2 linked regions of the Homo sapiens genome follow. The protein of the gene in region 2 interacts with the protein of the main gene of each other region in a pairwise test. Each region holds a gene or a part of one and is shown on either strand. Other genes may lie near its edges.

What was found. Proteins that work in one complex are often made in the same cells at the same time.
Region 1: the proteins of THAP4 (region 2) and GPR37L1 interact in binary tests that used the Homo sapiens proteins (3 or more experiments, as listed by UniProt).

The regions. Positions count from the first base shown.
Region 1 is NC_000001.11:202,118,428-202,125,937, forward strand, and holds the start of GPR37L1 (G-protein coupled receptor 37-like 1 precursor), read left to right. Parts: upstream 1-4,489; 5' UTR 4,490-4,536; coding exon 4,537-5,166; exon of another isoform or gene 5,167-5,306; intron 5,307-5,523; exon of another isoform or gene 5,524-5,631; intron 5,632-7,114; exon of another isoform or gene 7,115-7,291; intron 7,292-7,510. UniProt on the Homo sapiens protein: G-protein coupled receptor. Has been shown to bind the neuroprotective and glioprotective factor prosaposin (PSAP), leading to endocytosis followed by an ERK phosphorylation cascade. However, other studies have shown that prosaposin does not increase activity.
Region 2 is NC_000002.12:241,634,149-241,641,375, reverse strand, and holds the start of THAP4 (peroxynitrite isomerase THAP4), read left to right. Parts: upstream 1-4,217; 5' UTR 4,218-4,358; coding exon 4,359-4,435; intron 4,436-7,227. Other genes in the region: cysteine protease ATG4B, read right to left, coding at 3,652-3,661. UniProt on the Homo sapiens protein: Heme-binding protein able to scavenge peroxynitrite and to protect free L-tyrosine against peroxynitrite-mediated nitration, by acting as a peroxynitrite isomerase that converts peroxynitrite to nitrate.

The sequences.
Region 1 (7,510 bases), on a different chromosome or scaffold from region 2:
AGCCCAGGCTGGAGTGCAGTGGCACAATCTCGGCTCTCTGCAACCTCTGCCTCCCAGGCTCAAGCGATTCTTCTGCCTCAGCCTCCTGAGTAGCTGGGATTACAGGCGTGTACCACCACACCCAGCTAATTTTTGTATTTTTAGTAGAGACGGGGTTTCACCATGTTGGTCAGGCTGGTCTTGAACTCCTGACCTCGTGATCCGCCCACCTCCACCTCCCAAAGTGCTGGGATTACAGGCGTGAGCCACCGCGCCCGGCCCCAGCTAAGTACCTTTTCTGTAGCCAGCACTGGGGAAACTCCCAGGGAGAGGAATGGGGAATTCCTGGGATCATGGAGAGACACTCCCAAGGGCTAGGAAAGCCTTCCATCTCTGCCTGGCATGCTTCTGAATAGGGGAGATGGCTCCAGCTTGTCCAGAGAGAGGAATCTTCCTAAAGTAGAACTACAGGTAGGAGAAAAGTACTTTTGGGGGACCCATGCTGGGCACCCTCCAGGGGGGTGGAGGGGAAGAGTAGGCACATCCCCCATCCCTTTAGTCTCAGCCCCTGGGAACCCACCCTGTCCCCTATCATCTCTTTTCAGATGGCCTTCTCAGACAGCCACAGAAGGTCTGTGGGCAGGACCTGGGCAGAGTGGGATGGGTTAAGATCCGATGGGGTGAAGGGCTGAGGCCAGGCCCTTAACTACCATCACTGGACATTTGGTTCCACCTAGTGGCCTCTGATGTTCCAACCGTTCTCACAGAGACCGGCACAAGGGGGTGCCCTTTCAGGCATTCAGTGTTTATTGAGCACCTACTCTGTGTGAGGCCAAATGTGAGGTTTGATGGAGGCATATCCATGAGCATAAAGAGGCTGGGCACGGTAGCTCACGCCTGTAATCCCACCATTTTGGGAGGCTGAGGTGGGTGGATTGCTTGAGCTCAGGAGGTCTAGACCAGCCTAGGTGATACAGGCAGACCCTATGTCTACCAAAAAAAACACAAAAGGCTGGGCATGGTGGCATGTGCCTGTGGGCCCAGCTACTTGGGAGGCTGAGGTGGGAGGATCAGTTGAGCCCAGGAGGAGTTGAGGCTGCAGTGAGCCTAGATCCTGCCACTGCACTCCAATCTGGGTGACAGAGCGAGACCCTGTCTCTGAAATAAAATAAAATAAAATAAAATAAAATAAAATAAAATAAAATAAGAAGCAGAAGGTCAGGCAGGGTGTGTGCACCTGTAGTCCTAGCTACTCTGGAGGCTGAGGTGGAAGGATTGCTTGATCCCAGGAGTTCAAGTCTGCAGTGAGTATGATCATGTCACTGTGCTCTAGCCTGGGCAATAGAGCAGGACTCTGTCTCTGAATTTTTTTTTTTTTAAAGAGCAGAGAACTAACATTTATTCTGCTCACACGTACCAGCCCTGGGCTTGGGTCCATACTGTATTGGCACGTGCCTGTGGAGCACTGAGGATCCCACAGCAGAGACAGGACTGCCAAGTGCCTGGCCTGGTCACTTGGCTTCTCTGGACTTCCGTTTCCACTCCTGAAAAATAAGAAGGTTGGTGTAGATTATCTCTAGCATCTCTTCCTATGTTAGAATTCTGTGAAGTCACACAAAGGAGTGGTTAAGAGTTTCAGCTTTGGGCTGGGTGAGGTGGCTCACACCTGTATTCCCAGAACTTTGGGAGGCTGAGGCGGGTAAATCACTCGAGCTCAGGAGTTTGAGATCAGCCTGGGCAACATGGCAAAAAGCCTGTCTCTACTAAAAATACAAAAATTAGTCAGGTGTGGTGGTGCACATCTGTGGTCCCAGCTACTCTGGAGGCTGAGGTGGGAAGATTGTTTGAGCCTGGGAGGCTGAGGTTGCCGTGAGCCAAGATCATGCCACTGCACTCCAGCCAGGGCAACAGAGCCAGACCCTGTCTCAAAAAAAAAAGAGTTTTAGCTTTGGAGTTGGACAAACCTACATTTGGATCCCAGCTGTCATTCACTAGCTGTGTGTTCTTAGGAAAGTTGCCTTACCTTTCAGAGTCTAGGGTAATAATATAAAGATTAAGTGACAATTATAGCAAGCATTTAGCACAGAGTGTGGCACTTGGTGAGTGGTGATGCTGCAGATGATGGATGATTCTAGTTACCCAAATCCCCAAATAGCACACCTCTCATCTCCTCTCCTCTCCCCTCCCCTCCCCTCCCCCAACTTCCTTTCCTTTTCTCTTTCTTTTTTGATGGAATCTTGCTCTGTCGCCCAGGCTGGAGTACATTGGCCGCAATCTCAGCTCACTGCAACCTCCGCCTTCCGGGTTCAAGTGATTCTCCTGCCTCAGCCTTCTAAATAGCTGGGATTACAGGTGCCTGCCACCACGCGTGGCTAATTTTTTTTTTTTTGTATTTTTAGTAGAGACGGGGGTTTCACCATGTTGGTCAGGCTGGTCTTGAACTCCTGACCTTGTGATCTGCCCACCTCAGCCTCCCAAAGTGCTGGGATTACACACATGAGCCACTGCGTCTGGCCCTTTTTTTTTTTTTTTTTTTTTTTGAGACAGAGTCTTGCTCTGTTGCCCAGGCTGGAGTGCAGTGGCATGATCTCGGATCACTGCAACCTCTGCCTCCTGGGTTCAAGTGATTCTGATGCCCTAGCCTCCCGAGTAGCTGGGATTACAGGTGTGCACTGCCACATCTGTCCAATTTTTGTATTTTTAGTAGAGATGGGGTTTCACCATGTTGTCTGGGCTGGTGAAGGTGGTAGGTTTCAATGACAGCAGCATAATGCCGTGGGAGTTGGGAGGAGGGAATGATCTGACTCACTCTGGGGCAGGTCTTCGAGTTAATTCTCCAGTGGATTCTCCTAGGCATCGTGTGGTCCGTCCTCAGAACTGTGCCTCCCTAATGTGGCTGAGTGGATTCACTACCCACCCCATGCTTGGGCTCTGCCTCGACCTCTCCCTCCCATGCACAGCCAAAGCCGCTCAAAGCTGCTGGTTTTCCTTGACTCTGGGCTTCTCTCCATCACCCACTGCCTCCCAACAGAACCCCCGGTCTCTGCATCCTCCTGTTCCAGATTGCTAGGACCCCAGCTGCCCATCAGGGACCCCTCTAAAATAACTTAGTTGAGTCATTGTTTGCCTACTTAACAACCTGTGATATTCTCCATTGCTTATGGGATAAAATCTAAACTCCTTGGCTTGGCATACAAAGTCCTTTACAGTCCAGTTCCTCCTCTGCTGATATTTCCAAGCTCTTTGTCCCAAGTGCCCATGCTCTCTCCCCACCTCCCTTGCACTCTAGTCCCCTCGACAGACTTGCTCTCTTGCGGGAACATCACCCACTTCCACATCACCCAGCCTTTGTGTGTGCTGTGTCTTCTGCCTAGAGCACCCTCCCTTCCCGTAGTCTGTCAGGCAAGCTCACAGCCATTTCTCGGGATCCATTCAAATGTCACCTCGCTTGGGAGGCCTTCCAGATCCCCCCCAGATTTTCTTGGGTTCCCTCAGCATCATGACCTTTGCCTTTCATAGCATCTATCATGCTGAACTTACACATTTACTTCCTTCTCTGGACTGAAAGCTCATTGGTGGCAGAGATCCTTTACATTTTTGTATTCTGAGTGTCTGGAACACAACACGTAGTCAGTAAAGACGTGTTATTGCAAATGTCCACACATCTTGTGTCTGGCTCAGAATATGGTGTTTTAGGCCGGGTGCGGTGGCTCCCAGCACTTTGGGAGGCTGAGGCAGGCGGATCACCTGAGGTTAGGAGTTTGAGACCAGCCTGGTCAACACGGTGAAACCCTGTCTCTACTAAAAATACAAAAATTAGCCGGGTATGGTGGCGGGCACTACAGTAACTGTAATCCCAGTTACTCAGGGGGCTGAGGCAGGAGAATCACTTGAACCCAGGAGGCGGAGGCTGCAGTGAGCCAAGACCGCGCCATTGCACTCCAGCCTGGGCAACCGAAAAAAAAAAAAAAATTAGAAATCTCTGGAGTCAGATCTGGGTTGTGGGCCTTGCTCTGCCTTGTATCAACTATGTGGCAAGTGACTGACCTCTACAAACCTCAGATTTGTGATCTGAGATTAATCAAGGGTTAATTGAGAAACCAGCTGAGTGCTAGCACCTAGTAAGTGTTCAGTAAGTGACAGTGATGGTTATTGCTGAGTTTTGAATGGAGGAGCTGCCTTAGAATCAGGAGACCTGCGCCCCAGTTCCCATTCTGCCCCACCTCCCTGTGTCACCCTAGGCAGGCCACATTTCCTCCCTAGTTTCAGGGGCCTGAAGCAGATGCCCTCTTAGGGCCCCACAGCCTGACATGCTGTAGGGCCTGAGAAGCGGCGTCGTGGAGGACGAGATGTGTGAGGGCAGCAAAGAGTGCTATGTGTCCAGCAGAGGGCCCTGCCCGGCCTGTGGCCGGAGGCTGGGAGGGAGGGCAGGCGAGTGATGCCAGACGCCTGACTGGAGGCGGATCCAGCCGGCCAGCTGCCTCTCTGGAGCCCAGCTCTTGGGCCCCCTGCACTCACCTGCTCTTCCTGGGCTGGCTGTCTCCTGCTCATCCAGCCATGCGGTGGCTGTGGCCCCTGGCTGTCTCTCTTGCTGTGATTTTGGCTGTGGGGCTAAGCAGGGTCTCTGGGGGTGCCCCCCTGCACCTGGGCAGGCACAGAGCCGAGACCCAGGAGCAGCAGAGCCGATCCAAGAGGGGCACCGAGGATGAGGAGGCCAAGGGCGTGCAGCAGTATGTGCCTGAGGAGTGGGCGGAGTACCCCCGGCCCATTCACCCTGCTGGCCTGCAGCCAACCAAGCCCTTGGTGGCCACCAGCCCTAACCCCGGCAAGGATGGGGGCACCCCAGACAGTGGGCAGGAACTGAGGGGCAATCTGACAGGAGCACCAGGGCAGAGGCTACAGATCCAGAACCCCCTGTATCCGGTGACCGAGAGCTCCTACAGTGCCTATGCCATCATGCTTCTGGCGCTGGTGGTGTTTGCGGTGGGCATTGTGGGCAACCTGTCGGTCATGTGCATCGTGTGGCACAGCTACTACCTGAAGAGTGCCTGGAACTCCATCCTTGCCAGCCTGGCCCTCTGGGATTTTCTGGTCCTCTTTTTCTGCCTCCCTATTGTCATCTTCAACGAGATCACCAAGCAGAGGCTACTGGGTGACGTTTCTTGTCGTGCCGTGCCCTTCATGGAGGTGAGTGTGTGTTCTGTTTGAGCTCTGCTGGGAGGCTGCAATCCAGGGAAGGGACTCAAAGTCTCCATCAGGTCTTTGGAAATGGAATTTGTGGGTGTGCAAAACCTGAGTCTTGGAGCTCTGACTTGCTCCTCCTTTACCTTGGAGAAGGAGACAAATACGGTATTGGTTTCTGGTTGCTCTCAAGAGAAGTAGGCAGGCCAGGGGGACAGGCGGGTGTGTGGGGCCCCTGGGTTCCAGCCCCAGCCTGATCTTCTGCTTCGGGAGCAACCTCAAGGCAGGCCTTTGCCACTTTCTCCAGACCCTAAGCTGCCCTCTCCCTTCCTCAGCCCTTCTCCCCTGTCCCACCCAAGATACCTCTGTCCTTTGTTGTGACTCCTCTTCTTTCCTCTGTACCCCCTGCCGCTGCCCTGCTCCCACAGCTTCCTTCGCTGCTCCTCCGTCTCCTGCCTCCTGAAGGAGTGCCTGAAGGGAGAGCCCAATTTCCTTCACACCCCTCTGGATCAAGTCAGCATCCACTCCATGAGAATACAAGCACCAGAAGCAAAAGACCGCTCCGTTCTTCCCTCCCTGCTGGGATTCTCATTGTTATCGTTGTCATTTCCATCAGCAACTTCCTAGATCCTCTCTGAAAGGGATACCTGGTTCTGGGCACTGGAACTAATGGGGGGCTCTAGTCTTAGCTCTGCCACTGACATACTGGGCGTCACTGGGCAGGTTGCATTACCTCTCCAATTTCTTTATCTCCCAACCAGGGCGGGTAGACCAGATGGTCCTTCCAGCTGGCCTGTTTCACAGTTCTAAAGTATACCACTATGCCCTTACTTCTGGTAGCGTCTACGATAAGTCCATGGGTGTCAAAGGATATGTAGAGCATAGAGAGACAACTTAAAACACTGCAGAAACATACTGATGTGTGCATTTATGCAAGACACAGCAAGGCCACCCTCTCTCTCTCTGTAAGACAAAATAAGCAAACAGTCTTTCAAATTTTGGCTGCATGGAGTGTAATGGAGTGACTGTGGTCTCCCTGTGAAGCTGCTGTTCCTTCGTGAATGATGCTGCATGACAAGGGGGACTTGCCTGGCCGGAGAAGGGCTCAGGATCAGCATTACGGACACAGGTCCTATTCCAAGGTCTGTCCCCACCTCACCATGTAACAATGATGATGTCATAGTTGGACAGACTCCCTGTGTCTCAGCAGTGGGTACAGTCCTTTCCTGTCCTTCCCAACCCAGGGAGACTGACTAACAGTGGTACAAAGTTACTCCACCCTGAAAGAAGACCCTGTGCCAGGCACAGTGGCTCATGCCTATAATCCCAGCACTTTGGGAGGCCGAGGCAGGTGGATCACTTGAGGTCAGGAGTTCGAGACCAGCCTGGCCAACATGGTGAAGCCCCATCTCTACTAAAAATAAAAAATTAGCCGGGTGTGGTGGCACGCACCTGCAGTCCCAGGTACTCAGGAGGCTGAGGCAGGAGAATCGCTTGAACTTGGCAGGCAGAGGTTGCAGTGAGCCAAGATTGCGCAGCCTGGGTGACAGAGTGAAATTCTGTCTCAAAAAAAAAAAAAAAAAAAAAAAAGACCCTGCAACTGGAGAGAGGCTTTGCATTCTTAGTTATCATCTTGTGCTCACGACCCAGGTGAGCTGTGCATGCTTAGACACAGGACTCTGAAATTGAGCAGACTAGATTAGAAACTGGGCTTTTCCCATCACTAGCTGTGTGATTTGGTAGATTACTTTAACTACCTAAATCTCAATTTCCTCATTGGTAAATTGGGGATAATAATAATAATAGCTATCTGGGTGAATTCTTAAGGGATTAAATGGGTGATGTCTATACAGTGCTTAGAATTAAAATGGTATAGAGGAGAAGGGGAAAAGGGCAGACACATACGACCTCTTGTTTGCATGTGGCTGGTAGGTCAATGAACACCTGGCCCTACCTGACTGTGGGTCCTGACATATGTAATGTCCTCCTGGGCCAGCCCCTCCACACCTCCTGGAGGATAGAGATGATCCACAGGCTGGTAGACAGTCTTCCTTCTAGGCTGGGTGGTGGGACAGGTGGAGGGAGAAAACACTCTTTCTTTTTTTGAGACAGAGTCTCACTCTGTCACCCACAACACCCTTCTTCTTTATTTGAGACGGAGTCTCATTCTGTCACCCAGAGTGGAATGCCGTGGTGTAATCTCAGCTCATTGCAACCTCCGCCTCCCAGGTTCAAACAATCCTCCCACCTCAGCCTCCCAAGTAGCTGGTACCGCAGGCGTGTGGTACCACGCCCGGCTAATTTTTGTATTTTTGGTAGAGACAGGGTTTCATCATATTGCCCAGGCTGA
Region 2 (7,227 bases):
GGTTTCACCGTGTTAGCCAGGATGGTCTCGATCTCCTGACCTTGTGATCCGCCCACCTCGGCCTCTCAAAGTGCTGGGATTACAGGCGTGAGCCACCACGCCCGCCCCCCTCCATCTGAGTTGCTTAGCTCAGGCCATACACTATGGGGCCATCTTTAACTCCTCCCTCTCTACCCATCCCTCTCCCAACTTCCAATCTACAAACAAATTCTATTGTCTCAACCTCCAAAACACATGCAGAAGTCAACCTCTTACCCACCCTGAGCTAATCCACTGGCATCTCCTTGCTGGCTTGTTCAACAGTCTCTTAGCTGGTCTCGCTGCCTCTGCCCTTGCCCCTCTGCAGTACATTCTCAAAAGAGATGCCAGAGCAAGCCTGTTGAACACAGTCTATCATGTGACTCCTCCTCTAGAATGAAACCTTCCAAACGGCTGCCATCCTGTTCAGAATAAACACTGAGTCCTCACTATGAGCTGCCATCCTGTTCAGAATAAACACCGAGTCCTCACTATGAGCTGGCAAGGCCCCACTACACTGAGCCTAAGTCACCTTTCTATCCTCAGCTCCTGCTTCTCCCACCGCCACCCGCTGCACCTGAGCCACACCAGGCTCTTGCTACCTGCCCTTCCTCCTACACTGCTTTAAGTCTTCGTCAAAACTTAAACCTTCAGAGTGAGACCCTTCCTGGCCATCCTGGCTACAATTCCAATCCTCCTCATCCTTGGCCCAAATCACCATCCCCCAGGAGCCACGCACTTCGCTGCTAATGCTGGTCTCATGTCTAGAACGTTAGCTACCCCAGGGCAATGGTTTTCATCTATGTTGTTACTTCTCTAGTCCTAGTGTCTAGAACAATGCCTAACACATATCTGACAGTCAGTAACAAACAGTGTATTGAATTAATGACTATCAGAACAGAAACTGTATTACACATGGTCAAGGAAGGCAGAATCTTCAAGAACTCTAGAGATCAAAGGAGGGCAGATCATTAATCATCTCTGAAAGGAAATACAGCATCAAGTCAGAAGGAAAATTCCCCATGATATCCTACAAACATCATATACGTTTTTATCAGCATAAACAGAGACCTTTAAATGCAAACACCTTTTCTACTCTGATCCCACATGCAGCAACATCCAGTGTCCTATTAAAGTATCACCATGTCAACACAGTTGTCAAGGGAAAATAAAAGATAAAATAAAGTATCGCCATGTAACAACATAACTGTTCTCCCAACTTGAACATGATGATTTTCACATTTTAGGTCATATGATCGACACTGAACCGTGTTTTTGACCTTAGCCAAGTCTCTCATATGATACTCCAGCCTCAAGGTATCGAAATGATAGAGGCAGGAGGCAGACAAATCCTAGGCAGAGAGGGGTGGGTCACCAGTGAAACCCAACCTTCAAGCCACAGTTTAAAGCCTGAAAGCCAAGCGACGAGTCTCGGATAAATCCACAGACTGGATTGCGAACCTCTCTTCCTGTTTGGTGCGCTTTCCTCTAATTAATCCCCACCCTTCACCTATTTTACATATACCTACTTTTCTCTAATTGGTTTATTACACTGTTGTGCCCACCTTTGAGTAGTGACTTTGTTTTAACCTTTTTTGCATACTCACAGACAAATCAGCACACACTCCCCATTCTGAGCCTATAAAAGCCCTGGACCCAGCCACACCAAGGGAGACCACCCGACTTTGGGTGGAAGACCACCCTTGAGTCCCCTCTCTGCTGAGGGGTGTTTCATCACTCAATAAAACTATTCTCCACCCTCCTCACCCTTCGATTGTCAGTGTTAAGTGTAGTCTCATTCTTCTTGGACGTGGGACAAGAACTAGGGACCCAATGAATGCAAGTACAAAGAAGGCTGTAACACTGTGGCCCTGGGCCCTCTGCCGGCAAAGGGCAGCCACCCACTGTGACACCCCACGTGACAGGAGGCAGCAAAGGGAAGCAGCGGGGACGGAGCCAGCCCCAGAGCTATAGCCTGGAGCAGGGCAATGGGAGTAACAGGGCTGCTGACACTCTGCAACACCCCCTCTTGGGCTTCAGGGTTGTAAGCACCCCTGCTTGGGCGCCACTACCTTCCCCTTGTCTGGACACCAGAATCCACTGTCCCTTTGTCTGGACGCTGGAGTCCGCCGTGGGAGTTGCTTGCCACATGTCTAGCTGTAAGCTCTGCAGAGCCCACTCTGGTGCCTGCGCTTGAAACAGCTGGCGGGACCCGGCACTCACTCACCCACACACCCACTCCCGCCAGGGGCTGAGCATACAGTCATGGTGGCCATGGTATCCGTGCCATAGTGCAAACCAGGTGCCCACCGGTGGACCAAGTAGATGGGGTATCTCCTGCGGCGAGCCTGGACCCAAGCAAGGCCTGGGCAGGGGCCTCGCCAGCCGGAGGTCTCTGGCTGCCAGAGTGGCTGAGAAAAATCCTGCATCACAAACAATAACACCTAAAAAGATATAATACAACAGTTGTAAAATAGTAAACAACAAATAGTACACAGCTGCAAATAGTTCAACCGTGAATGACGGTTATTCTAAAAGACAAACTTCACAAGATATACACCTGGTCAACATGCTCCTTAGGGAGTCAGGGCTCCTGTTTCCTCCAGCCACCTACCACATTTAAGTGGTGAGCTGCTACAAATCATTTTAATAGATATTGGCAATACACATTACAGTTTTCCAACTCAGATCTTAATAAATTTATGTTGTAGCTACCAGAAAAATAAAAAGTAAAAACAATCCCATTCAGAATGACAGAATTAAACCAGATGAAAATCTTTCTTTACAGATGGGGGATACTTGGTAAAAGGCAAATCAGTTCCCACAAAGAATGAATGAGCTAAAACTTCTGTGTAAAAATATTTCTAGGGCTACTGGGCTAGCGATGGGTTTGGCGCTGACTTAAAATAATCTTGCTAGCAAAAATGGAGCGGAAGCATGAAAGGATAGGAAAAAAACCAACACTCCCTATACACACACACACACACTCCTTCTCTTTCTCTCTCTCTTAGGACCCCAAGAAACTAAGACCCGATGATACAAATTCACTGTTTCTCTTTCTCGTCACGGAAAAGCAGCTTGGAGAATCTACTGGTTACTAAATTGAAGACAAAAACAAAAAAGATACGTATACTGTGATGAACACGTCACGTTTCTCTCCTCCAACCTACCAATAACTTCATAAAAGTTAAAGAGCTTCCATCCCTTCACGCTCAGCTGCGGAAAGGCTACGCTTTCGCCCGCCGCTCGCGTCCCCGGCCCGGACCGCGGCCGCCCCGTTCGCCGCCGCGCCTCTCCCCGCCCGGCAGGCTCCGCCGCCCTCCACGGCCGACCTGGCGCAAGGGCCTGTGCAGCCACAACCTCCGGAGCGCTCCGGACGGGACCGGAAAAGCAGAAGCTCCAGCGCAACCGACGGCGGGTTCCGCGGCGCAGTGCGCCGCCGTCCCCCTCCCGCTCCCACCGCCCACCACCCACCAACACCGCCCCGCGCTCCCGCAGCGCCCGCCGCCCCGGCCCAGCCTGGCCCGCACCGGCGTGCCCCGAGGCGAGTCGCGGCAGCCCGACCCGAGCAGGGGAGGCCAATGATAAGGCGAGCACCTCCTGCGGAAAGACCGACCCCCGGCAACTCCTCACCTGCGTCCATCTTCCCAGTCCGGCCGCCGACTGACCCGAGCGGCGTCGCTCCGACGGGCCAGCAACGCGACGCGGCGACGGGACGCCGCGGGGGCCAATAGGTGTGCCGGCGCAGGCGGCGAAGACGATACGGCGCGCGAGCGGAAATACGCGGGAGCCGCCATTTTGGCGTACGGCCGGGCCGACGCGAGCCCCGGGGCGCCCTGCGGGCGGCATGGGGTCGTGTCGTGGGACGACGGCTGGTTCTGCTGTCCGACGGGACACTGTGTGCCATGGGTGGCGCTTCCTCCTCTTAGAGGACCCAGGAGCAGTTGTCGAGGCGGCAGAGGCGAGCTCTGTCCCCGTCCGAGCAGCCATCTTGCGGTACGGACGTGCTCGGCGCGCCCATGTCGCGGTACGGACTTGCCCCGCCGGGGCGACTCCCCCGCCCGTCTGCCCGCCTGCCGACGGACGCTGCGAGGGGCCTGCGGCGCCCCGCTGGTCCGAAGACGCCCGAACCCGCGGCTGGCGAGGACGCGGGCGGGGGCTGGGGCGGGGGCGGGCCCGCTGCGGGCGCCTGCGCCTCCATCTTGCCGTACGGCGCGGACGCCGCGGGCCGGCCCACGTCCCGAGCCGTGTCGCCGCCGCGCTCCCTCCCTCGGGGCGGTCCGCGGGCGGGCGGGCGGCTAGGGCCGGGGCCTGGCTGCGCGGCTGGGCCAAGGCCCGCGATGGTGATCTGCTGTGCGGCCGTGAACTGCTCCAACCGGCAGGGAAAGGGCGAGAAGCGCGCCGTCTCCTTCCACAGGTACGCGGGCCCCGGGCCGCCACGCCCCCGCCCCGACCCGGCCCTGCGGGGAAACTGAGGCCCCGCGGCCGGCCCGAACGCGGGGGGCGGGGGCGCCGGGCCTCGGCGGCCGGGGCGCGGGGGAGCGGGCGTGGGCGCTGTGTGACCTTGGCCCGGCCGCCGTCTCTGGGCCGGGCGCCTCGGGCAGCGCAGCCGCCCCCACCCCGGCCGCCTGGGTCCGCCCTGCGCGCGATCGATCCGGCCGGCGCCTAGGCTTCAGAAGCCGCACGCTCTGGAAGCGCAGGTCCTGGGCCGATTGTCCTGCTCGGCCGCGACTGCTGACTCTCCGGACCGCGCGGGCCGTCGGCCTGGATGTCTGCGAGCAGGAGCGACCGGGCAGACGCGACCTGCGCCTCCGTAGCTGACAGCCCCCGAGAGGGCTTTCCGGGACTGGGCCCCCGAGCCCAGGACGCGGGTACGCGCGGAGAGTCTACGGGACGGCCGGCTGGGGACGGCATCCTCCTGCGCTCCCTTAGAGCCTGGCCCGGGGCTCTCGGCCGCTTCCCACGTGGGCCCCCGCGGCAGGGCCCAAACCCCTCTAAGGCCTTGTGAGTTCAGCCTATTTCAGTGAGATTTCTGCGGATTACACGCGGGAGGCACCAGAACCGCGAACAGACTTTAAAAACCACTTTGGAGATGTTTCTGTTTTATGTTGCATGGTGTTATTTAAGTTTTAAAGACGGGAATGGCACGTGTTATTTATAGGGTTATTGAAAGTTCACAGTAGTTTGCTGTAAGTCTTAAATCATTACAATGTATTATAAGAATTAGTAACATTAGATTATTTCACAAGTCAGCCAGCGCACTTTCTTGACAATTTCCTTCAGAGCTTGTGTCCTAGAAGTTTTGTTATTGTTTTTTGAAAACGAGGCAACGTGTTGCAACGGTCTAACATGGTATGGGAGGAAAGGACATCGGAATTGGGGGTGGGGGGGTACCTTTGCAGTTGGCCTCACAGTGTTCAGAAAGGAGGTTAGAAGGTCCTGTTGCTTAGAACGGCCCAGTCCATCCTGTTAGGATTTGTCCTGGTCCACACTGGCCTCAGGTGGAGCAAATAGCAGTTAGAACTGACCACCCTGTCCCTTATGTGCACATTAGGGCCTGGTTTTTTTTTCTTTTTTTCTCTTTTTTTTGAGAAGGAGTCTCCCTCTGTCGCCCAGGCTGGAGTGCATTGGTGCGATCTCGGCTCACTGCAACCCCCGCTCCTGGGTTCAAGCTATTCTCCTGCTTCAGCCTCCCAAGTAGCTGGGATTACAGGCAAGCGCCACCACGCCTGTCTAATTTTTTTGTATTTTTAGTAGAGACAGGGTTTCACCATATTGGCCAGGCTGGTCTCGAACTCTGGCCTCAAAGTCCTGACCTCAAGTGATCCACCCGCCTCGGCCTCCCAAAGTGCTGGGATTACAGGCATAAGCCACCCCGCCCGGCCCAGGCCTATGTTCTTAAACACAGAGTTTGCCTTAATGAAGAAATGGTTATGAAGGATCTTTATTAGGTAATAAAGAAATGACTAAACATCCTATTCAGTATCTTCCTGCGCTGGTTGCTTTTTTCTCACCATTTTTAAATTATGGTATAATACATGTAACATGAAATTTACCATCCTAACTTTTTTTGGAGACAGAGTCCCACTCTGTCACCCAGGCTGGAGTGCAATGGTATGACCGTAGCTCACTGCAGCCTCAGCCTCCTGGACCCAAGTGGTCCTCCCATCTCAGCCTCCAGAGTAGCTGGGATCACAGGCATGAGCCACGGCTCCCAGCCTTTCCTACCGCTTTTTCAGTGTACAATTCATGGCAACAAATACATTCACGTTGTTGTGCAGCTGTCACTACCATCCACCTCCAGAATTATTTTTATTTTGTAAAGCGGAATCTCTGGACTCATTAAACATTAATACCCCAGTCCTCCTCTCCCTAGGCTCTGGGAACCCGCATTCTCCTGTCTCTATGAATTTGATTACTCTGAGTACCTCATGTGAGTGGTATCATGCAGTGTTTGTTTTTTTGCACCTGCCCTATTTCATTCAGTATAATGTCCTCAAGGATCATCTGAGTTGGTTGATTTTTTTTGAGGGGAGAAGACCGGGTTTCACTCTGTTCCCCAGGATGGGGAGCAGTGGTGCAGTCTTAGCTCACTGTAACTTCGAATTTCTGGGCTCAAAGAACCCTCAAGCCTCAGGCTCCCAAGTAACTGGAACTGCAGGTGAGCACCATTGTGCCCTGTCCCTGGGCTGGTTGACTTTTAAAAGGAGCATTTTTACTCCTGGAGGTGGGCATGCAACAGGAACACAGAACTGTAGCTCTGGAGTCTTCTGGAGGTCTCCAGATTCTCAGCTGCTTGCGCACAGCCAGGGCTGCCTCCATGCAGTCCTGACCTCTCACGCCCTAGTGTCTGTGGATGCTGGCCCTGGTTTTGGTACCCAGAGTCCTACCTTCCAGGCAAGTTGGGAGGGTTGGTTAGCAGTCAGCTTCTAGGAGCTATTTCCTGCTGTCCTGAGGCCATCCTGGCACTGTCTGTCAGCATCCTGTGTCCCCATTGGGCATTTACCACAGCCTGGGGAGCAGTTGGTTACCTTCTTTCCCATCCGCCCTACAGACTATAAGCTCTGTATGGGTAGACAACGGGTCTTTCAGATTTCTACTCCAGTAATAACTGCAGGTAGAAGATGTTCTTTAAATCTTTTTGAAGTATTTTTTTAAGTGGATGAAGTCAATACGGCTTAGGGTGCGTGCAAAAATACTTGTTTTGCT